Homo sapiens: one gene and its partners. The protein of the gene in region 1 interacts with the protein of each later gene in a biochemical or structural test. Each region holds a gene or a part of one and is shown on either strand. Other genes may lie near its edges.

The links.
Region 2: of the proteins of RPA2 (region 1) and CDK1, one has a biochemical effect on the other in vitro, tested with the Homo sapiens proteins (2 studies listed by BioGRID).
Region 3: of the proteins of RPA2 (region 1) and ATM, one has a biochemical effect on the other in vitro, tested with the Homo sapiens proteins (3 studies listed by BioGRID).
Region 4: the proteins of RPA2 (region 1) and STAT3 form a complex in vitro, tested with the Homo sapiens proteins (one study listed by BioGRID).
Region 5: the proteins of RPA2 (region 1) and WAS form a complex in vitro, tested with the Homo sapiens proteins (one study listed by BioGRID).
Region 6: the proteins of RPA2 (region 1) and RNF20 form a complex in vitro, tested with the Homo sapiens proteins (one study listed by BioGRID).
Region 7: the proteins of RPA2 (region 1) and PRIM2 interact in a biophysical measurement, tested with the Homo sapiens proteins (one study listed by IntAct).

What each region holds. Positions count from the first base shown.
Region 1 is NC_000001.11:27,897,576-27,901,075, reverse strand, and holds part of RPA2 (replication protein A 32 kDa subunit), read left to right. Parts: intron 1-3,368; coding exon 3,369-3,443; intron 3,444-3,500. UniProt on the Homo sapiens protein: As part of the heterotrimeric replication protein A complex (RPA/RP-A), binds and stabilizes single-stranded DNA intermediates that form during DNA replication or upon DNA stress.
Region 2 is NC_000010.11:60,791,915-60,795,352, forward strand, and holds the end of CDK1 (cyclin-dependent kinase 1), read left to right. Parts: coding exon 1-139; intron 140-233; coding exon 234-375; intron 376-1,962; coding exon 1,963-2,061; 3' UTR 2,062-2,938; downstream 2,939-3,438. UniProt on the Homo sapiens protein: Plays a key role in the control of the eukaryotic cell cycle by modulating the centrosome cycle as well as mitotic onset; promotes G2-M transition via association with multiple interphase cyclins.
Region 3 is NC_000011.10:108,327,567-108,331,066, reverse strand, and holds part of ATM (serine-protein kinase ATM), read right to left. Parts: intron 3,423-3,500; coding exon 3,309-3,422; intron 2,047-3,308; coding exon 1,829-2,046; intron 854-1,828; coding exon 646-853; intron 1-645.
Region 4 is NC_000017.11:42,312,824-42,315,442, forward strand, and holds the end of STAT3 (signal transducer and activator of transcription 3), read right to left. Parts: 3' UTR 501-2,619; downstream 1-500. UniProt on the Homo sapiens protein: Signal transducer and transcription activator that mediates cellular responses to interleukins, KITLG/SCF, LEP and other growth factors. Once activated, recruits coactivators, such as NCOA1 or MED1, to the promoter region of the target gene.
Region 5 is NC_000023.11:48,682,399-48,686,598, reverse strand, and holds the start of WAS (actin nucleation-promoting factor WAS), read right to left. Parts: upstream 2,801-4,200; 5' UTR 2,746-2,800; coding exon 2,614-2,745; intron 2,317-2,613; coding exon 2,176-2,316; intron 1,053-2,175; coding exon 966-1,052; intron 866-965; coding exon 763-865; intron 654-762; coding exon 612-653; intron 519-611; coding exon 465-518; intron 1-464. UniProt on the Homo sapiens protein: Effector protein for Rho-type GTPases that regulates actin filament reorganization via its interaction with the Arp2/3 complex. Important for efficient actin polymerization. Possible regulator of lymphocyte and platelet function.
Region 6 is NC_000009.12:101,557,853-101,560,848, reverse strand, and holds part of RNF20 (E3 ubiquitin-protein ligase BRE1A), read right to left. Parts: intron 49-2,996; coding exon 1-48. UniProt on the Homo sapiens protein: Component of the RNF20/40 E3 ubiquitin-protein ligase complex that mediates monoubiquitination of 'Lys-120' of histone H2B (H2BK120ub1).
Region 7 is NC_000006.12:57,530,630-57,534,129, reverse strand, and holds part of PRIM2 (DNA primase large subunit), read right to left. Parts: intron 1,720-3,500; coding exon 1,647-1,719; intron 1-1,646. UniProt on the Homo sapiens protein: Regulatory subunit of the DNA primase complex and component of the DNA polymerase alpha complex (also known as the alpha DNA polymerase-primase complex) which play an essential role in the initiation of DNA synthesis.

The DNA of each region.
Region 1 (3,500 bases):
AACCCTGCTACTGCTTTCTCAACTAAACTTATGGAGTAGTCTAAATCCTTTATTGTCGTTTTAACAATGTTCACAGCATCTTCACTAGGAGGAGATTCCATCTCAAGAAACCAGTTTATTTGCTCATCCATGAGAAGCAACTCCTTTGAGAGGCCCAGGCGGCCAGATAGATCATTTGAGGTCAGGAGTTTGAGACCACCCTGGCCAGCATGGTGAAACCTCGTCTCTACTAAAAATAAAAAATTTAGCTGGGCATGGTGGTACATGCCTGTAATCCTGGCTACTCGGGAGGGTGAGGCAGGAGAATCACTTGAACCTGAGAGATGGAGGTTGCAGTGAGCCAAAATTGTGCCACTGCCCTCCAGCCTGGGTAACAGAGTGAGGCTCAGTCTCAAAAAAAAGGAAGCAACTCCTCATCCACTCAAGTTTTACCATAAAGTTACAGCAATTCAGTTATATCTTTAAGCTCCATTTCTAATTCCAGTTCTCCTGCTATTTCCACCACATCTGCTGTTACTTGCCCCACTGAAGGTGGAGGTAGCAGTGAGCCCAGATTGTGCCATTGCACTCCAGCCTGGGTGACAGAGCGAGACCTTATCTCAAAAAAAAAAAAAAAATCTTAAGCAGCCACCCAATATATACTTCAGATTAAAAAAGAGCTGTTGGCCAGGTGCGGTGGCTCATGCGTGTAATCTCAGCACTTTGGGAGACTGAGGCAGGTGGATCACTTGAGGCCAGGAGTTTGACACCAGCCTGGCCAATAAGGTAAAACCCCGTCTCTACTAAAAATGCAAAAACTAGCCGGGCACAGTGGTGCATGCCTGTAATCCCAGCTACTCAGGAGGCTGAGGCAGGAGAATCACTTGAACCCGGGAGGCACAGGCTGCAGTGAGCCGAGATCCCACCATTGTAATCCGTCCTGGATGATAAAACGAGACCTTATCAAAAAACCAAATAAATAAATCTCAGCTGGGTTCGGTGGCTGACGCCTGTAATCCCAACACTTTGGGAGGCGGAGGCGGGTGGATCACCTGAAGTCAGGAGTTCAAGACTAGCCTGGTCAATGTGGCAAAACCCTGTCTATTAAAAATACAAAAGCCGGGCACCGTGGCTCACGCCTGTAATCCCAGCACTTTGGGAGGCCGAGGCGGGCGGATCACGAGGTCAGGAGATCGAGACCATCCTGGTTAACAGGGTGAAACCTTGTCTCTACTAAAAATACAAAAAATTAGCCGGGCGTGGTGGCGGGCGCCTGTAGTCCCAGCTACTAGGGAGGCTGAGGCAGGAGAATGGTGTGAACCCATAAGGCGGAGCTTGCAGTGAGCTGAGATCCCACCACTGCACTCCAGCCTGGGCGACAGAGCGAGACTCTGTCTCAAAAAAAAAGAAAAAAATTGTTCATATTATTTCTATGGTTTCTTTTATTATAATTAAACCTATGATCTACATGGAATATATTTTGATAAAAGGAGTTGAGGTAGAGATCTTTTCTCAAGTGGATTCAAAATGTTGTATATGGGAATACAATTGTTTTGTTTGTGTGGTTTTTTTTTTTTTTTTTTCTTTTTTTTTTTGAGATAGAGTCCTGCTCTGTTGCCCAGCCTGGAGTGCAGTGGCACAGTCTCTCACTGCAACCTCTGCCTCCTGGGTTCAAGTGATTCTCCTGCCTCAGCCTCCCGAGTAGCTGGGACTACAGGCACCCACCACCACACCTGGCTAATCTTTGCATTTTTAGTAGAGACAGGGTTTCCCTGTTAGCCAGGCTGGTCTCGAACTCCTGACCTCGTGATCCGCCCGCCTCAGCCTCCCAAAGAGCTGGGATTACAGGCGTGAGCCACTGTGCCCACCCTTTTTTTTGTATTATTAACAGAGGCAGGGTTTCACCACGTTGGCCAGGCTGGTCTCGAACTCCTAACCTCAAGTGACTTGCTCGCCTTGGCCTCCCAAAATGCTAGGATTACAGGCATGAGTCACTGCACCTGGCCAGAGTTTTTATTTTTAAGCATATATTTTCTAGTTTTTTGTTTGTTTTTAGAGACGAGGTCTCACTATGTTGCCCAGGCTGGTTTCAAACTCCTGAGCTCGAAGGATCCTCCTGCCTTGTCCTCCTAAAGTGCTAGGATAACAGGTGTGAGTCCATATACCCCGATATATTTTCAATTTTTTTTAAAGTAATACATTTTATGTAGTCAGAAAAGAACTTTAAAAATCAGCTAATGGGCCGGACACGATGGCTCAAGCCTGTAATCCCAGCACTTTGGGAGGCCGCGACGGGTGGATCATGAGGTCAGGAGATCGAGACCATCCTGGCCAACATGGGGAAACCCCGTCTCTACTAAAGATACAAAAAAAATACAAAAAAATTAACCAGGTGTGGTGGCAGGCGCCTATAGTCCCAGCTATTTGGGAGGCTGAGGCAGGAGAATCACTTAAACTTGTGAGGCAGAGGTTGCAATGAGCCGAGATCATGCCGCTCCACTCCAGTCTGGGTGACAGAGCAAGACACTTCGTCTCAAAAAAAAAAAAAAAAATCAGCTAATGTATTTTTCTTATAAATAATGTGTGCATATTCTAGGAAACTGATAAGTATTAAAATCGTTTTTAATTATCTTAGTCAACCATTATAAACAGTTTAGTGTGTATTGTCCCAAATGGGAAATCAGCTTTTTTCCATGTATCATGACTTGTTTTTCCAGGCAGTAAATAGAATTCTATGTTATCATTTGCAACAGTGTGGAGTATCCTATTATATAGAAATGTGTACTTTATGTTGGATATTTAGGTTGTTTTAAAATTTTTAATATTCTATACTATGATAAATCTAAATCTTAATGCATGTTCTTAATTACTTCCTTAAATTCCTAAAAGTAGAATTGCTTTGCCAATAAGTATATCCACCAGAAAATTGTGTGCCTGCCGGGCGTGGTGGCGGGCGCCTGTAATCCCAGCTACTGGGGAAGTTGAGGCAGGAGAATTACTCAAACCCTCCCTTGGGAGGCGGAGGTTGCAGCGAGCCAAGATCGTGCCACTGCACTCCAGCCTGGGTGACAGAGCGAGACTCCCTCTCAAAAAAAGAAAAAAGAAAATTGTGTGCCTAAGAGCTTGAACGAGAGTGTCACAATTGTTTGCTTTTTTATGATGTGCTACAGAACTTTGGAACTGATAATTACCTTTAGAGATATTTTTATTCTAATTCCTGGTTTTACAAAATAAGTTGTAAAAGGCAGGGCAAACTACTTAATGCCATTTTAGGATCCTTTAACTCTTCTACTTCGTAACTTTCTCTTTCTATACATAATATAGAAACGTTAAAGAGGCTTTTACCAGCATCACTAAAACTTTAATGACATGTTTGTATTTTATGTTAGGACACCAGCAGTGAAAACACTGTGGTTCCTCCAGAAACATATGTGAAAGTGGCAGGCCACCTGAGATCTTTTCAGGTAAAGTCAGAATAAAATAACAGTTAAAGTGTTTTTGCATGAAGCAGTTTCTAGATT
Region 2 (3,438 bases), on another chromosome or scaffold:
CAGAAGTATTGCTGGGGTCAGCTCGTTACTCAACTCCAGTTGACATTTGGAGTATAGGCACCATATTTGCTGAACTAGCAACTAAGAAACCACTTTTCCATGGGGATTCAGAAATTGATCAACTCTTCAGGATTTTCAGGTAGCTATTAAAAACTGAGATAATAAAGGTAACATATATGTAACAATGAGATTACATTTATGCTTTAAGAAATTTTTAATTTCCTGTTTTTTAGAGCTTTGGGCACTCCCAATAATGAAGTGTGGCCAGAAGTGGAATCTTTACAGGACTATAAGAATACATTTCCCAAATGGAAACCAGGAAGCCTAGCATCCCATGTCAAAAACTTGGATGAAAATGGCTTGGATTTGCTCTCGGTAAGGAGTGCCCTTGATACTGACTTTCAAATTATTGATGATTCTGAATATATTCAGTTCTTTGTTTTGCCTAGAAAATAGGAAGAACACTAACATTTTTGAGCTAGGTGTCTGTTATGTACATTGTATTATACTAGCTTCATTTTAGATATCAGGAGGCACTAGTGGCTTTGAGAGGAGGATTTAGCATTAGTTTTTGTTTTTTATCTGACAGGTAGCTATGGATATTCTGAGGGAGAAGCCAGGATTAATACACATTTTTTTTTTTAAGTTGCTGAATTGTAGTGGCTCTCCTTTCTAGCATTTTTGTCACTATTGAGCCCTCTTAGTTTATGCTAGACGTGTTTTTCTTATTGGTTGATATTTTAAATTATTAAAGCCATCTTCTGAATAAGCTTTATTCGCACTTTGTACCTAGTTTCTCCATCAGAAGGATCTATTGCTATACCATTGTATACATTTTCTCATTGGTCTTCGGGTTACTTTCAGAGTGTAAAGACTCCTTATGCCACAAAATTAAGCTTAGATTTCCCCCAAATCAAATACTATAAATCAGATTCCTTAGTCTAGCCACAATTGACATATCTTGGAGTGGATAAATCTTTGTTGCTGGCATTGTTCTGTGCATCATAACTTGTTTAGTGGCATGTCATCACTGTCTTCTACTCTCTAGATGCCATTAGTATACTCTTCACAGTTAGGACAACCAAAAGTGTCTCCAGATATTGCCAAATGTCTCCTGATGGGCAAAGTCTATCCCAGTTGCGAACCATTATTGTAAATTAAACTTGGTTTCAAATTTGAGCTTTATTCCTTAGCTCTGGGAACTTGGGCAAGTTACTTCCCTTCGAGCCTCAATGTCCTCATTTGTAAAATGACATTAATACCTACTTTTAGCTGTGGGAATTGAGTACCATGATTTATACAAAGCAGTTTGTATGGTGCTGGTTACATGAGAGTTCAGATGGTAACTAGTTAGTAAAAAATCTCTAGTGTGCTTGTTGATTTTATTTTATTTTAGTATTTCTTAAAGATCAAATTTAACATCAATCCTAAACTTTATTTAGCTTTTTCTGGCGCGTAAACTAACATACTAAGTTGTGTGACTATAATTCATTTAGTGACTCATTTTTAGCTATTTTTATAACACATTGTGCTATGGGGGGTTTTGGAACTTGCTGGAAGCTACATCAGAAACTGCCATAGTTAATTGCCATTTCAAGAATGTTGTAAATAACTCAGGTGGCCGTTTAATTCTCAATGTAAATATAATTAACTAGACGTCTTTCCTATATTTGTGTCTCAGTTTTAAAGCTATTTCTGGATGCTTGAGTCTTACCGTAATTGATAACAAAAAGAGGTTATTGAGAATATCTATGATTTACAGAGTAAGTTATTCTAGACCTCAAGAGTGAAATGTAGGGGAGGAGACATTTGTGTGTTAAACTAATGGAAATGCTCATTTAATAGATATTCACTGAAAGTATTAGTTTTGGTTTATTGCTAGAAAAGTTGAGGTTTTATGGAGATTTTTGTAAAAAATGGTTTATTTCCTAAATAAATATCTCTTTTTCTTTTTTCTCCCAGAAAATGTTAATCTATGATCCAGCCAAACGAATTTCTGGCAAAATGGCACTGAATCATCCATATTTTAATGATTTGGACAATCAGATTAAGAAGATGTAGCTTTCTGACAAAAAGTTTCCATATGTTATATCAACAGATAGTTGTGTTTTTATTGTTAACTCTTGTCTATTTTTGTCTTATATATATTTCTTTGTTATCAAACTTCAGCTGTACTTCGTCTTCTAATTTCAAAAATATAACTTAAAAATGTAAATATTCTATATGAATTTAAATATAATTCTGTAAATGTGTGTAGGTCTCACTGTAACAACTATTTGTTACTATAATAAAACTATAATATTGATGTCAGGAATCAGGAAAAAATTTGAGTTGGCTTAAATCATCTCAGTCCTTATGGCAGTTTTATTTTCCTGTAGTTGGAACTACTAAAATTTAGGAAAATGCTAAGTTCAAGTTTCGTAATGCTTTGAAGTATTTTTATGCTCTGAATGTTTAAATGTTCTCATCAGTTTCTTGCCATGTTGTTAACTATACAACCTGGCTAAAGATGAATATTTTTCTACTGGTATTTTAATTTTTGACCTAAATGTTTAAGCATTCGGAATGAGAAAACTATACAGATTTGAGAAATGATGCTAAATTTATAGGAGTTTTCAGTAACTTAAAAAGCTAACATGAGAGCATGCCAAAATTTGCTAAGTCTTACAAAGATCAAGGGCTGTCCGCAACAGGGAAGAACAGTTTTGAAAATTTATGAACTATCTTATTTTTAGGTAGGTTTTGAAAGCTTTTTGTCTAAGTGAATTCTTATGCCTTGGTCAGAGTAATAACTGAAGGAGTTGCTTATCTTGGCTTTCGAGTCTGAGTTTAAAACTACACATTTTGACATAGTGTTTATTAGCAGCCATCTAAAAAGGCTCTAATGTATATTTAACTAAAATTACTAGCTTTGGGAATTAAACTGTTTAACAAATAATGCTGCTCATTGTGATTCTTACCTATAAGCAGCCTAATTTGAATTATTTGCTGCAATCAAGAGAAGTGTACAATAGTTTTATTACTTTTTTAGTGTACTTCTATCCTTTTTCCAACTATATCTCCTCTATTTTTCCTCCTCGTTAACAGGCTAGAATGTGCATTCCTGGGTTACCGATTTTTACACTCAATTGGATGTGTAATGAGGGATCTATCTAATCCATCTTGTCTTGGAAATTTTGCACTCTAGAAGAAAGTGTGTCACTTTCTTCAGCAGCGAGACCTTTTAAGATTGGTGGTTTGGTTGTCCTGTTCTGTGGTCTTTGGTGGAAGCCAGTTTGTTGTAAGAGAATGTAGAGCTTATTAATGTAAGTCATTTGGGGTTATATTGTGGAGGGTTGTTTAGGATTGCATGGCAGGAATTGGGTAAATGAAAGGTAACACTAAAGATTGGAGATGGTATAATGGCATATCTACAGGTCTGTGTTTCCTTATCTGCGA
Region 3 (3,500 bases), on another chromosome or scaffold:
ATATTTAGTGTATACTACAGCAGAGATTGACTGTATCTATTATGAGTCTTATTATTTTCCTGCAGGAGAAACATTTTATCTCTAACCTTCAAATTGACTAACAATATATAGCTTGTCAACTTAAATTTAATATTAGGTGTCATCACTATAATCTAAGGTTTTCAAAGAAAAACTTATACAATACTGCTGTCTTGACATTTTCTGAAAAATATATTTTCTCTACTTACAAAAGTAATTTATTGTAAAAATCCCATATTTCTGCAGCAGGGGGAAAACCCACCTGTGATCACATCATCTTTAACTGCTTTCTAAATCCTCCAATCTAATGCCCCATTCTAGACCCTCTCCTATGGTAACTGCAAAGACATAGGACCAAGCTAAATTCTATCACCTCCACACAAACTTGCATCATTTACAGCTTGTCAGCTTATATAATACAAAGGAACTTTTGTAGAAACAAGACTAGAACTTGTAAATAATCCTAAATATGGATCAAAGTTTAGAAAACTACAAAATGCTACTTATGTGTAGAGCACTGGACCAAGTGCTAGGAATACAAAGAGGTATACACGATTCCTGACATCAAGGGGCTTATGTCTAAGTTTTTCAAGCACAGGGTAGAATATTGGGCTGAGTAACACTTGCCTTCATCATGCCATTGACTTCAGAAACTCCAGAATTTTCAAGCCAGAGGGAACAAAGTCGGAATACCCACATATCATGTTCTTCTCCACTTAATAAGCAGTTGATATAATTTTCAACTGCTTTACATAAGAAGCGTTTACGATCCTCTTTCAGTGCACGCAGGGCTAATTCATCCAACTCCAGCTCTCGCTGAACCTTTACTGTGTATCTTGCATAGAATAATTAAGGTAAAACACAAAAGCCATGAACTTTAACAGAACTACAAAATCACACATGATATACAACATTTAATGAAAAAAGTTGGGTTTTTATCCCAGGGAAAAAAGCAAACTTCTAAGGATTATAAAGGGAATAAACTTACTTTTGTCTTAACTGTGCAATTCACACACCTTCCTAAGCATCAAAGGACAAAGGGGACTCTCCCCAAGCTATTTAGCTAACTTACACCTCTGCTTACACTAAAATATACAGATTCAAGACAGGCTTAAATAAAGGGATTTAATTACATCAAAATAGGTAACTTTTGTAATTAATTTCAATATCTATCTCCTTTTCCACTATGATACCAACAAACAAACCAAAAAAGCAAAACAGAAAGCTAATATCTATATTCTCCACAATGAACTTAGAAGCAGAGCATGAATTATTCACAAAAGAACACGTCAATATCTTACATACTAATTTGTGATTAACTACAGTAGGACCAAGACAGACAGGGCACAGTGCCTCACACCTGTAATCCCAGCACTTTGGGCGGCCAAGGTGGGCAGATCGTTTGAGCCCATGAGTTTGAGACCAACCTGGGCAACATGGCAAAACCCCATCTCTACAAAAAATACAAAAATTAGCCAGGTATGGCGTGCACCTGTAGCCCCAGCTATTTCGGGGGCTCAGGGGGAGAATCAATTGAGTCCAGGAGGTCGAGGTTGCAGTGAGCTGGAGTACAGTGATCACGCCACTGTACTCCAGCCTGGGTGACAGAGTGAGACCTTGTCTCAAAAAAAAAAACAAAAAACAAAAACCGAAAAGAACCCAAAAGACCAAGATAATCTATATATAGTTAAGCCGACCTTTAGAGCTCAAAACTATATCAGATAAAAAGACCAAGTCACTCTTTCTATGCAAAAACACTCACTCAGTTAACTGGTGAACATAAAATTGTCACTTGTAGAAACCTAGTTACCTGTTTGTCTGAATTTTATGTTCCCTAAGGAGACCTACTTCCTCTTTGGCTCTTTTCAGGAGAGCTTGCTTGTTTTCAAATTCCGATGATTTCATGTAGTTTTCAATTCTTTGGTATTGAGTATCTGAAAACCGGGCTAATGAGAGAAATGCCTTCATTTTTCCATTTCTTAGCTCATCACTACTTTCTCCATCATAATTTCCAGCAACTTCTACTGCCTTCAAGAAAACACAACCAATTTAAATTATATTTACAAATACTAAATACATCTAAAGAATCACTCAAATTAAGGTAATACACTAAAATTTAACTTATATACATATAAAAGCTAGCTAAATTATATGAACTATTGCAAACTTGTCCAACCCACGGCCCATGGGCCGCATGTGGCCCAGGACGGCTTTGAATGTGGCCCAACACAAATTCGTACATTTTCTTAAAACATTATGAGATTTCTTTTGTGATTTTTTTTAAGCTCATTAGCTATCATTAATGTTAGTATATTTTATGTGTGGCCCAAGGCAATTCTTCTTGCAATGTGGCCCAGGGAAGCCAAAAGATTGGACAGCCCTGAACTATGGTATTTTCTTGACTTTTCAAAACAACTTTGACAGTGTAGAAATAACCCAGACAGCTAATACTTGTAAAGAACTCTGCAAAAACAGAGAACTTTATAAAATTTAAAGACAATCAGGCTGGGTGTGGTGGCTCAAGCCTGTAATGCCAGCACTTTGGGAGGCCGAGGCAGGTGGATCACTTGAGGTCAGGAGTTCGAGACCAGACTGGCCAATGTGGCGAAACCGTCTCTACTAAAAATAAAAAATATTAGCCGGGTGTGGTGGCACACTCCTGTAGTCCCAGCTACTTGGGAAGCTGAGGCAGGAGAATCGCTTGAACCCAGGAGGCAGAGGTTGCAGTGAGCCGAGATTGCGCCACTGCACTCCAGCTTGGGCGACAGAGAGAGACTTCATCTCAAAGAAAAGAAAAGAAAAGAAAGACAATCGCATCATGTGTTTCATGTTACACTTATTTAGTGAGGTAACTATTTCCAAAATTAGTGAATCTAAAGGAATAAGAGGGAGAAACAGGAAAGTCAAAGGGGCTAGTATATTGAAGCCTTTACTTGTGGGTGGCTGGGCTAATGAAGAGCAAGGGCTGACTTGCCTATTCTTAATCAGTTATTTTTGTAGATGCATAAATGAAGAAATGATCAGAAGCAACCTGCTGAAAGGGTAGCTGGTAGTGGAGGTAGGAAGGAGGAAGAAGAGATACTATACTTGGGCTTACTTTCAAAATTGGCTGCTTTGTTTTGTAACAATGTTTCACTCCACCCTAGAGACTATACAGAGCTACAACAGTAATAATATATAGAAAAATAAAACCATACTTTTATTTGCTTTGGAAATATATTGATCTTGATGAAAAGATGAAGCATATTCATGCTAAGTAACTATCTTAAGGGTTGCTCCAAAAATCTTACCTTTTCTAGATAGGTCTGCATGATGACCGCAGGATTTTCTAAGCACGTTTCTGCTAACCAGTTGCCACAAACCCTCAGACATTCTGTGTATGTAAGTTTTAGGCTGGGATTGTTCTGTATAAGAAAGGCAAAATCTTAAAATATAATGCATTACCATGACTGTACCCAACTGCCCTTCATGTACGGGGAAAA
Region 4 (2,619 bases), on another chromosome or scaffold:
CCTGTGGGCGCCCGCGTAGCTGAGGTTGGGGCGCCTTTCCCTGCATTATCACCGCTGGCTGCCGGGGGCCCTGCAGCCACCACCGGGTGTCTGCGTGTTGTCCCCGCTGGGTGAACTGAAGGGAAAGTGATAAAGGAGCCAACTGTGGAAGGGGAGGCCTTGGTGCGGTGGGAGTATCTACCCCCCACCCCGCTTAGGTGGCTTATCTGACCCCAGACAGGACGAGGCCGCTCTGGGGGGTAGGAGGGGGCCGGGGAGGGAGGCCTCCACTCTGACACCTTTCTGCCGTTGGACTATTGACCTCCTGCTCCTCCAGGCACCCCTTACCTCCGGGCTGGTGGCTAACATAAGGGGGTTGGCGGGGGGGATTAAGGCAACCACCTCCTCTCAAGACCCTTTCCGGCCCTTATCCCAGGCCCCACCTGTGTGTGAGGCCCCCTCAGAACTTATGCAGGGGAAAAGGAAGCCTCCACCAGCCAAACAGAGCTGCCATGCTATCAGACGGTTCCTATATAACGTTTATTTCTGGAAGTTAAAGTAGATACAGCAATATACCAAAAAAAAAAAAAAAAAAAAAAGACAAAAAACCTCACAATAATATAAATTTTTACACTATGAAGTACACATTGGAATTTGAATGCAGTGGCCAGGACAGCAGCTTATAAACCACCTTATAGGTAGGTAAGCAACCCACGGGATTCCCTCGGCTGGGCTGGGGATGGGGAGGGGGCAGTGGACAGGAAGCGGGCAGGGCCTGAGGACCCTGTTCTTTAATGGGCCACAACAGGGCTCAGCTCCTCTCAGAACTTTTGCTACAATCAGAGTTAAGACCAGATACATGCTACCTAAGGCCATGAACTTGACAATATCTGCTCCAGAGAAGCCCTGAACCCTCGCCCTAGGTCCCTATGATTTAAACCCAATGGTAAGCCCAAGTCTCACCTTTCTAAATATTCTGTTTATCAGTTAAGCTTATTATGTACTGAAGAGTGTTGCTGGAGAAGTAAGAGCTCTGCATGACACATCAACTGTCTCCAGGCAGGAGGACTGGGGCGAACCCTGTTCATCTTAGAGAAGGTCGTCTCCCCCTTAATTCAGAGACCAGCTAATTTGATTTAACAAACAGAATTCCACAGAAACTCTGATCAGCTGAGGCAAGGTGGTTTTGAGTTGCCAAATCCGGCCATGCCTCTGAGTCAGAGGCAGCCCATCCAGCACGTGCTAGGTGTTCCCATACGCACAGGAGAGGCGAGCTAGCCAGCCAAGGCGGGCAGGCGGGGAGGCCCTCTAGCTGTTCTGCCTCACCTGTGGGGCCCCAGCAGGGAGGAGTCACCAGCCTCAGAGGGAGGCCAGGTATACACCCTCATACGAGGGCAGACTCAAGTTTATCAGTAAGCCTTTGCCCTGCATGAACTGAATGAAGACGCCATTACAAGTGCCACTGGATATCACCAAGAAACTGGCTAAGAACCATATTCCCTGAGCTCAACCAGACACGTCGCTGGGGCCCCATAGTGTGCATCATGTCCAACCTGTAACTCTCTCCCCCTCTTCTTCCATGAGGTCCTGAGACCAGGATTCCTAAAACAAACAGGATGAGGGACCTTTAGACACGCAAGGAGACATGCCTCTAGCAGGATCAGGGGGACTGGGGTCGGGAGGGTGGGGCAGGAAGGAAGCCAGAATCAGAAGTATCCCAGCCCTGATAAGGCACCCACAGAAACAACCTAGCCTCTGAAACAGCAGATCAAGTCCAGGGAGAAAGGGAGTCAAGGTTGTAAGCACCCTCTGCCCAGCCTTACTCACTAAAAGGCCAATACATTACAAAGGAAAATAAGTCTATTTATAAAAAAAAGTCTAAAATGCTTAGATTCTCCTTAAACCTTCCTATTTCAACACCAAAGGCCAGGTTGCAGCTTCAGATGTCTTAAGGGTTTGACCTGAAGCCCGTTTCAGGGATTATATAAATTACCAGCCTGAAGGAAGCTGAATGCTTAAAGCACCAAGGAGGCTGTTAACTGAAGTTTCTTTTTTTTTTTTTTTTTTTTGAGACAGAGTCTCAGACTGTCGCCCAGGATGGAGTGCAGTGTGCAGTGGTGCAATTTTGGCTCACTGCAACCTCCGCCTCTCAGGTTCAAGCGATTCTCCTGCCTCAGCCTCCCGAGTAGCTGGGACTACAGGCGCCCACCACCACACCCAGCTAATTTTTTGTACTTTTAGTAGAGACGGGGTTTCACCGTGTTAGCCAGGATGGTCTTGATCTCCTGACCTTATGATCCGCCTCGGCCTCCCAAAGTGCTGGGATTACAGGCGTGAGCCACCATGCCCGGCTGCTTAAGTTTCTTAAATACAGAAAGGCTATGCTGATACAGTGTTTTTTGCCCTTTAATTGTTATTATTTCTTAATTTAAAAAGAAACCTAGGGCTTAGATAGTCCTATCTTCTATTTGGATGTCAGCAAGGTTAAAAAGTGCAATGCCAGGAGTATGTAGCTATAGGTGGCCTGTGGCATTTGCTTACAGAAACAGGCAGAAGGATGCCGCAGGCACCAGGAGGCACTTGTCTAAGAACAACAACAACAATAACAAAAAGCTGCTGAGAAAGGAGGGCAGGGGAACA
Region 5 (4,200 bases), on another chromosome or scaffold:
TCACTGATTCATTCATGTTTTCATTCCCTCATGCTTTATCATTCACTGGCTCATTGACTAATGAATTTGTTAAAATATTCATTTACTCATTTATTCATTCAATCATGCTTTCTTCACTGACTGAAACTTGTCATTTAGTCATTTATTCACTGTTCATTCATTCACTCATTGATTAATTTACTCAGTCATCCATCTACCTTTTCATTCATTTATCCACATACCCATTCACCTATGCATCTATCTACTTAGACTTTCATCCTCCCATCAATTCATCCCTCTACTCAGCCATCTACCGCCAATCCATCCACCCATCCATCAGTCCACACATCCATGCACCTGCTCGTCCATCCACATACCTATCAATCTACCTATCCATTCACCCACTTACGCACCCATCCAACTCCTCATTCCTCCATCCACTCTTACCCATCCATCCAGAGACACAGGGAAGAATCAGCACGCACCTCCTTGGTCTCCACCTGGATGCAGGGGCAGGGGTGGGAGCCCTCCTCTTCTCTCTGGGAAGATGGAATGTGTAGAGAGTTATCACAGCCCTGCCACAGGTTCCTGGGCTAGCCCCTTATTACCCCTACTTGCACTAGAGGACTCACCTTCATTGGCTGGTGTTGGTGGTGGGGGTAGCTGGCGTCTGTCTGTGGATAGATGGATTGGGAGCCAGGACCATGAGAGGGGACTTTTCTAGTTCCCCAGGCTTGCACTCACCTCTGCCCAACTTCCTTTCCTCCCCTGTGGCCTCCTCACCTCCACTTTGCCTCTGATTCCTTTTTTGTATCTTCTCCTGCACGAGGGCCCGGAAGGCCTGGGCCTCGTCCTCGTCTGCAAAGTTCAGCCCCGCTTGGCAGTCCTGCACATACCTTGGGGTCAGCCGCCTCCCAGGTCCCCCGCAACTTTCCCATCTCCTCTCCACACCCCAAGTGAGGCCCGAGGGCTGGTTGATCACTTACATCTCCAGCGAAGGTGTGGAAGAAGGGGGTGGGGGTGGAGTAGACAAGCTGTGAGTACAGCTCCTGTTCCCAGAGCAGCCGACCAGCCTGGAGAGGTGTAGGGTGGGAGGCACAGTGGCACTGAGGCACGCCGGGGGTGGCAGGCTTTTGTTAGCTGGGCAGGGAGCAGGGTGTCTGGATTTGGGAGCCTCATAGTCTGGTTTGGAGATTTTCAGCTCAGCACCAGAGAGTTGGTGTCTAAGGGTGTGGATTGTGGGGTATAGTCTGGGAGCCATACACTTTTGTGAGAGGTTTGGATTTGGGGTTTGGGGCCCTAGATCTGGGACTTGGGGGCTTGAATTTCATAATTTAGGACTCTAGTCTTAGGAAGTTGAGGCTCATTCACAGATTCAATCCATGCCCTCCCCCACCACCCCAGCCCCAATTCATGACAGGTAGGATTCTAGTATTTGGGGGTTGGAGTTGAGATTTGAAGTTCAGACACATAGACTTGGGAGTTTCGCGGGGAGTCCAGCTAAAGTAAGTGCAATTTGGGGTTTGTGGAGAGAGTTATGGTTTAGGAGTTTGGTGGATATTTGATAGCCTTGGGATCTGGAAGTTATGCTGGGTCCATCTTTATGGGTTTAAAAGGATGAATTTGGGGCTTAAACCTAGAAAGTTCAGGTCAGGGGATTGTGGAAAAGACTTTTTGCTTAAGAACTACCTCGGTATTTGAGTGTTCAGGAATTTTAATATGGGAACTCTGGGGTCTGTGCTGTGGATTTAGAAGGACAGATTTGGAGTTCAAGGATCAATGGAATATTCAACTTTGGGGTTTGTTGAACAGATTTATGACTTAGGAGCTTGGCAAACATCTGGGGTTCAGGAGTTTTGATGAGAGATTCCTGGGATGCAAAATGTTGAGTTTAGAATAGATTTGAGGTTCAGGTACAAATACAGTGCTCATTTATTGGAATTTGTGGAAAAGATTAGGCTTAGGCAGCAGACTAATACTGGGGGCTTTAGAGATCTTGATACGGAGACTGGGGCCAGTCATTGCAGACTTAGAAAGGCAAGTCAGAGTTTGCCATCTGGATGAGTCTTTGGTTCTGGGGCTCAGGGATTCACTGATCAGGTCTGAGGTCTTGAAGCTATGGACACATATGGACACAGATCTGGGTTTGCGGGTTGAGAACTGGCTTGCAAGTCCAGTCGGGGGTGGGGGGGTCACCTGAAGGCCGTAAAGGCGGATGAAGTAGGACTTCTGGGGGTTATCCTTCACGAAGCACACAGCCCCACAATGCTCCTTGGTCCAGTGCTCAGCTCCAGGGGGCAGCGCCAGGTACAGCTGAACAACTGCAGTGGCCAGCGTCTGGGAGAGGAAAGCAGGGGTCAGTGGAGTCTGGTCAGGGGTAGCCACAAGGTCTTGGAGCCAGACCTGGTCCTTCCTGCCTCATGACAGTCATGGGCCCAAAGGAAGAGCTGCAGCCAGAGGGAAGGCAAGTAGACATTGAGATCTTCCTGGGAAGGGTGGATTATGACGGGAAATTCTAGGAGAGGAGATGATGGAGAGGGAAAGGAGGAGCGGGAGGAGGGGAAGAGAGAGAAGGAGGAGAGGAAGAGGAAGAAACGGTGGGGACGGGGCGGGGGCAGGAGATCCCCAGCTCACCAAGCATTTTCGTCCAAGCATCTCAAAGAGTCGCTGGTTCTCGTGGTCCTGGAGGAGGGTGGAGGGTATGTTCTGCTGAACCGCTGGTGCTCCTCGGCCCCCGGGCCTTCCTCCCATTGGGCCCCCACTCATGGTGCTTTCTGCCCTTGTCTTCTCTGGCGAGGCTCTGGGTGCAGGGTAAGAAGAGGAACTTCCGCAATGAGCAGCAAGGGAACAGGAAATGCAAAAAACCACAAGGGACAAGGGAAACAAGTCCTCCAGGGGCCCCTTGGTGGGCCTGGCCTCCTCGTTAGGCTGAGCTTGGGCCCTCCGCCATCAGATTGGAACCCTCCTCCACTTGACTGCTTAGACCCACCTTTTGGATCAGCTTGGGTCCTCCTCCCCCTTTCTTACTCTCTGGGGCCCATCTCCTTCTGACTGGCTCAGACCCTCCTCCCTCTGGCTGGCAGCGAGAGCTTAGCACATCTGTGTGCAGGGCTCCCTGTGGCAAGGAGTAGTCATGGGCCTGGGTGGCCTCCTTTCTAAAGCACCTAGGTAGCCTGAGGCTGAGGCCCGAGGTCCCTAGTCCGGAAGGGTTACTACAGTAAAACTTTTCCTTTTGGCTGGGGACAATAGCTCACACCTGTAATCCCAGCACTTTGGGAGGCCGAGACGAGTGGATCACTTGAGGTCAGGAGTTCAAGACGAGCCTGGGCAACATGGCAAAACCCCATTTCCACTAAAAAATACAAAAATTAGCCAGGCATGGTGGCACACACCTGTAGTCCTAGCTGCTCAGGAGGCTGAGGCAGGAGAATCGCTTGAACCCAGGAGGCGGAGGTTGCAGTGAGCTGAGACTGCACCACTGCACTCCAGCCTGGATGATGACAGAGCAAGACCCTTGTCTCAAAAACAGCAACAACAACAACACAACAAAAACCCTTTTCCTTTTAATTACAGAGCGAGCCCCTGTGATCCACGCCTATCGTGAGTGCTTAGACACTGCCAATGACGCATATGCCTCTGGTCCACTTCCCCATCCCTTACCCTTGCCTCCCCGCAGCTCCCAAATTACTTTCTGCTTGTCATACTTTTTTTTTTCTTTTTTTTTTTGAGATGGAGTCTCACTCTGTCGCCAGGCTGGAGTGCGGTGGCACGATCTCGGCTCACTGCAACCTTTGCCTCCCGGGTTCAAGTGACTCTCCTGCCTCAGCCTCCCAAGTAGCTGGGACTACAGGCACACGCCACCACGCCCAGCTAATTTTTTTGTATTTTTAGTAGAGACAGGGTTTCACCATGTTGGCCAGGATGGTCTCGATTTCTCGACCTCGTGATCCACCTGCCTCGGCCTCCCAAAGTATTAGAATTACAGGCGTGAGCCACCGTGCCCAGCCCATCCCTTTTTTAAAGAAAGGAACTTTATATCATATATGAATGCCTGAACAACATCTTGTTTAGTTTTCATTGCACTTGAAGTTTGTAAAAGCACATAATCTTCAAAGGCTTGCTTTCTCCCCACTGGACATCCTAGTTTTATCTTAACACTCACATAGCACTTAACGTGTGTGCCAGTCACTGTTCTGACCCCTTTGCCCGGAGTGCGAGCCA
Region 6 (2,996 bases), on another chromosome or scaffold:
ATGCTCCTTCTCTTCCAGTTTCCTTACTACCTGTAGCTGGGCATCAACCTTTGAACAGAAAATCAGATTTTAACACAAATGAAAAGATTAAAAAAAGAAAAAAAACTATTCTGTTAATCTATAAGCCCACAAAATACAGTATGTTAGAAATCTCAAACTATTACTGATTTTGCCCATGAACCCTTCAAAATACATCAAGACTATGATAACTGAAAGCTTTACTTTTAATATAAAATATTGTGGAAGATTCAGTAAGAGTCTGAAAAATGACTGAAAAGATTCTTTTCCAAATTGCCAAAAATAGAGAATGCATGCTAATGCTTAAAACCTGGCAATTCATACTATAACATATAAATTAGAACTCAAACAAAAGTCCAAGAGTATTTCCTTCAGAATGGCTAGACATTCTAAAAGAGTCTTTTTTGAAATTAATGCACAAAGTAGAATCAAACAATATTAAAGTGTAAAAAGTAAAATCACAAACACCCACCTCCTAACCTCACCCACAACTCATCCCAATATGTAGAGGTAACCATTCTAACAGTTTCTCACACTGCCTTCAAAAAGCATATCAAAAAGATAGTCCACCATGATCAAGTGGGTCTCACACCAGGGATACAGGGATGGTTTGACATCCACAAGTCAATAAATCTGATACACCATATAAACAGAATTTTTAAAAAATCACATGATCATCTCAATAGATGCAGAAAAAGCATTTGACAAAATCCAGCATCCTTTTATGATTAAAACTCTAGCAAAATCAGCATAGAAGGGACATACCTTAAGGTAATAAAAGCCATCTATGACAATCCCACAGCCAACATTATACTGAACAAGGAAAAGTTGAAAGCATTCCCCCTGAGAACTGGAACAAGACACAGATGCCACTCTCACCACTTCCATTCAACATGGCACTGGAAGTCCTAGCCAGAGCAATCAGACAAGAGAAAGAAATAAAAGGCATCCAAATTGGTAATGAGGAAGTCAAACTGTCACTGTTTGCTGATTACATTATCATATACCTAGAAAACCCTAAAGACTCATCCAGAAAGGTGCTAGAACTGGTAAATGAATTCAGCAAAGCTTCACTATACAAAATTAATGTACACAAATCAGAGCTCTGCTATACACCAACAGCAACCAAACTGAGAATCATATCAAGAACTCAAACCCTTTGACAACAGCTGCAAAAAAAATAAAATAAAATACTTAGGAATATACTTAACCAAGAACGTGAAAGACCTCGACAAGAAAAATTACAAAACACTGCTGAAAGAAATCACAGATGACACAAACAAATGGAAACACATCCCATGCTCGTGGATGGGTAGAATCAATATTGTGAAAATGACCATACTGCCAAAAGCAATCTACAAATGAAATGCAATTCCCATCAAAATACCAACATCATTCTTCACGGAACTAGAACAAACAATCCTAAAACGCATATGGAACCAAAAAAGAGCATACATAGCCAAAGCAAGACTAAGCAAAATGAACAAATCTGGAGGCATCACATTACCTGACTTCAACCTATACTATAAAGCCATAGTCACAAAAACAGCATGGTACTGGTATAAAAATAGGCATGTAAACCAATGTAACAGAATAGAGAACCCAGAAATAAAGCCAAATACGTAGTCAACTGATCTTTGACAAACCAAACAAAAACATAAAGTGGGAAGGGACACCCTATTCAACAAATGGTGGTAGGATAATTGGCAAGCCACATGTAGAAGAATGGAACTAGATCCTCATCTCTCACCCTATACAAAAATCAACTCAAGATGGATCAAAGACTTAAATCTAAGACCTGAAACCATAAAAATTCTAGAAAGCAATATTGGAAAAATCCTTCTAGACAATGGCTTAGGCAAAGACTTCATGACCAAGAACCCAAAAGCAAATGCAACAAAAGAAATGATAAATAGATGAAACTTAATTAAACGAAAAAGCTTCTGCACAGCAAAAGAAATAATCATCAGGGTAAACAGACAACCCATAGAGTGGGAGAAAAAAATCTATACATCCAACAAAGGACTAATATCCAGAATCTACAAGGAACTCAAACAAATCAGCAAGAACAAAACAAACAATCCCACCAAAAAGTGGGCTAAGGACATGAATATACAATTCTCAAAAGAATATATACAAATGGCCAACGAACATAAGAAAAATGTTCAACATCATTAATTATCAGGGAAATGTAAATCAAAACCTCAATGCAACACCACCTCACTTTGCAGGAATGGCCATAATCAAAAAATCAAAAAATAATAGGTGTTGGCATGGATGTGATGAAAAGGGAACACTTTTACACTGTTGGTGGGAATGTAAACTAGTACAATCACTATGGAAAACAGTATGGAGAGTCCTTAATGAACTAAAAGTAGACCTACCACTTGATTCCGCAATCCCACTTCCGGGTATCTACCCAGAGGAAAAGTCACGCCATGGAATACTACTCAGCCATAAAAAGGAACAAAATAATGGCATTCACAGCAATCCGGATGGAATTGGAATTGGAGACCAATATTCTAAGTGAAGTAACTCAGGAATGGAAAACCAAACATTGTATGTCCTCACTCATAAGTAGGAGCTAAGCTGTGAGGACGCAAAGGCATAAGAATGATACAATAAACTTTGGTGACTTGGCGGAGGGAGGCAAGGGACAACAGACTACACACTGGGTACAATAGACTACACACTGGGTACAATGTACACTGCTTGGGTTATGGGTGCACCAAAATCTTGGTATCACCACTAAAGAACTTATTCATGTAACCAAACACCACATGTTCCCCAAAACCTATGGAAATTTAAAAAAAAAAAAAAAAAAGTAAAATCACACATACCTCCTAACCTCACCCACAACTCATCCCAATATCCAGAAGTAACAATTCTAACAGTTTCTCATGCAGCCTTCCAGAAATTTTTAAAATATACAGCACAGGAACACAAGTAAACATATACTTTAACGCAAAAAGGATAAC
Region 7 (3,500 bases), on another chromosome or scaffold:
ACAGCATTGAGAAAGCCAGATTTGTTAGAAGAAAAAACTAAAGAAAACATTTGGAGAAGAGTTGCAAATACCAAGGGATATGCAAATGACATGCTGTTGTGAAGATCAAACAATATAGATACAGAGTTAGGAGGCAGTCCAGAAAAAGATACATCTGTATTACTCACCACGGGGTCTCAGGCACAGACCCATGACAGGATCATCATCATAGCACTTAACATTATATTGCTCATTTATTATTTATTATGTTGTCCCTCTCCCTCATGTAAGGTCCATGAAGGCAGGGACATTTTCTGTTTTCCTCACTTCTGTATCCACAGCACAATGGCTGCTACATAACTGATGGGCTCAATACATATCCATTAAATGAATTAATATTTCTATGAACTCCAACAGTATCCAATGAAATTCACATTTGCTTGTGAATAGGGAAACATCTAGCTAGAACTAAGAACAGAATTAACCTCCAACCATTCACATTATATAAGCACAAATCACATGAGTGGAAGTGAGAAAGTGGACTGTTAGAGATAAGTGTTTAATAAAAAAATTAAAAGATGGGACATCTTTGAGAACAAATTTCAAATCAACAAATCAACTGTGTAAAGTAGGCAACCCTACTGTTATTTCTAGACATATTAACTGCAAGTACTTTTTTATAATTTTTCAAATGGAAGACGACCTATTCATTCTGATCCAAACTCACGTTCTTTCTCTACTAGTCTTATTACAGTTCTTGTTTCCAAGCATTAAAATCCCTGTGTATTTTTAATTTATTGTGAATAATTTGGTAGTTGTCTAACCCAAGATTATTTATGGCTGGCTTATTTTCCCTTTGTGTATGGAGTGCAAATGCTGTTATGTATTAAAGAGAAATTCTACAAGTATGGCAAAGTACGCTACCCTATGGAACCACAAAGTCAAATGATGCTAAAATAAGCTATCTATTAATCTCGTAGCCTACACTGGATGATGAATTGTCCTCTCCCCCTGAAATTCATATATCAAGTCCTGACCTCTAGTAGCTCCAAATGTGACTATATTTAGAGATGGGGCCTTTAAAGAACTCATTAAGATTAAAGGAGGCCATGGGGGTGGGGCCCTGGTCTCACATACTCAGTGTCCTTACAAAAAGAAGAGACACCAGGGATGTATGCAAGCAGTGGGAAAACCACAGGAGAACACAAGGAGAAGGCAGCTATCTGTGAGACAAGAAAGGCCCTGGAAGAAATCAAACCTACTATCCCTTTGATCTTGGATTTCGAGCCTCTAGACTGTGAGAAAATAAATTTCCGTTGTCATGACAACCCTAACAAACTAATACACTTAGTGTTTTCCATTTCCCCTTTATTAAATGTATACACTATTTAAATGTAAACACAAACTCCATTTAGCTATTTAAAAGAATTCCTGTTTGGAATAGTTGATTAAATTCTGTTTTCATAAAAGTACAGATAATTTTCTGATTAAATGATTTTCTTATGATTTTTTTTAAAATCATCTAAGTGGGACATGGGATTTTCTTTAAAATTAATCAGCAAGCAGTGAAATAATATTCTATCTCCTCACCCAAAAGTCTTTGATTTAAGAAAATCTATGTTCCCTCCATTGATAAAGTTCTAAGTTTAAAATAATGTTCTACTTACCAAATCAATCTGATCTAAAGAAATCTTCCCAACATTTCCCTGGGTACTGTAATCTTGGCCAGTGTAGGAATGACTTTAAAAAAAGAAAAAAAAATATTAAAACAGATTCATAAAATACTTTTGATCCCTTCGAAGGAAATTTTTTAAATTCTGAAAATGATTAAAATAAGAAAGCATTTTACATGTAAACCTTAGCAGAAACATAGCCAAGTGTTTTAAACGTATTTAATGAAATTAATTTAAGTAACTTACCCCAAAATAATAGAAAAATATAGTAACAGTCTGAACCTCCTGACTCCTAGTCTAGAGCACCACTTCCATTTTTTTAGAAGCATAATCCAAGTTGTTGTTAAAGTTCAAACCTCTACCATTTATCCTTTATTAACAGCACGACAACATAGCAAAAAAGCAGCTGGAACTTAAATTGGGAATCATCACTTAAAAGTAGTAGGTGAGCAAGTTACTTAGTTACTCTCTGTATGCCAGGTGCCTTATTGACTAATGGCGATAATAATGCCTGCTTTGCAGTGTTGATAGGAGGTCTGAATTGTAAGAATTTTTGTTAAAGAGCCTGACATAAAGCAATCACTGTTTATTAAAATAAATAATATCTGAATAGCATTTTACAGTGTACAAAGAGTCTTCAATAGCCTCTAATTAGATCCTTGCAACCCCCTGAAAGAGCGTTTCTGTATATCATCTGATGAATGGAGGCTTGGAGGAGTTAGAAACTTGTTAGGATCAGAAAGCAAGTCAGCAGTGCAGTGGGAACTCAAACCTTTTGATTCCTAATTCCCCATTTTTTCACCGCACCATATCATCCTCTTCCCTATAATAAATTTTCCTGCATGATTATCTTCAAATTAGGAAACATAACTTGGTATATACTACCTTAAGCCACCCACCTCAGTAATGTTTGACCTCCTTCACACAACACACTACTCATGCCCAACTCCATGAACACAGACTCAGGTGCATGCAGGTGTGACATAGCAAAAAACAGCTGCTAGATTACATAGAAATTCACAATCAAACCAAAGATTATACAAATACCACAACTAAAGGGAAACCCTGGAGTGAAGAGTCATTATGATCATAAAGAATTCCACCTGGGCAACAGAGTAAGACTCTGTCTCTACAAATAATAAAAATTAAAACAAAAACAAAAACCTGGGCATGGTGGCATGCCTGTAGTCCTAGCTACTCTGGAGGCTGAGGTAAGAGGATTGCTTGAGCCAGGGAGATCAAGGCTGTAGTGAGCCATGATCATGCCTGAGCATTCGAGCCTAGGCTATAGAGCGAGACTGTCTCAAAAAAACAAACAAACAAACAAAAAATCCAGATACTACTTTCTATCTGCTCAGTTACAGATTCTACCTGCTGAACCACATATACGCTCAAGATGCTCTGTAGACAGGCTGTTGTTTCCATAATCAATCAATTTTACTGATTAAACAATGGGTATGGATTATGAAGCAAAACCACAATATAGCTGGCTCACACCTGTCATCCCAGCACTTTGGGAGGCTGAGGCAGGCAGATGGCTTGAGCCCAGAAGTTCAAGACTAGCCTAAGCAACATGACAAAACCTTGTCTCTACAAAAAATACAAAAATTGGCCAGGCATGGTGGTGTGTGCCTGTAGTACCAGCTACTCAGGAGGCTGAAGCAGTAGGATGGCTTGAGCCCAGGAGGTGTAGGATGCAGTGAGCTGAGATCATGCTCCACCCTGGGTGACAGAGTAAGACCTTGTATCAAAAAAAAGAAAAAAAAAAAGGTACAGATTTCCCCTCCCTGCAAGTCCTCCTCCTACAGGCTAAGAAGGACCTGAGAATTACTCTGAGAGCAGGATGAG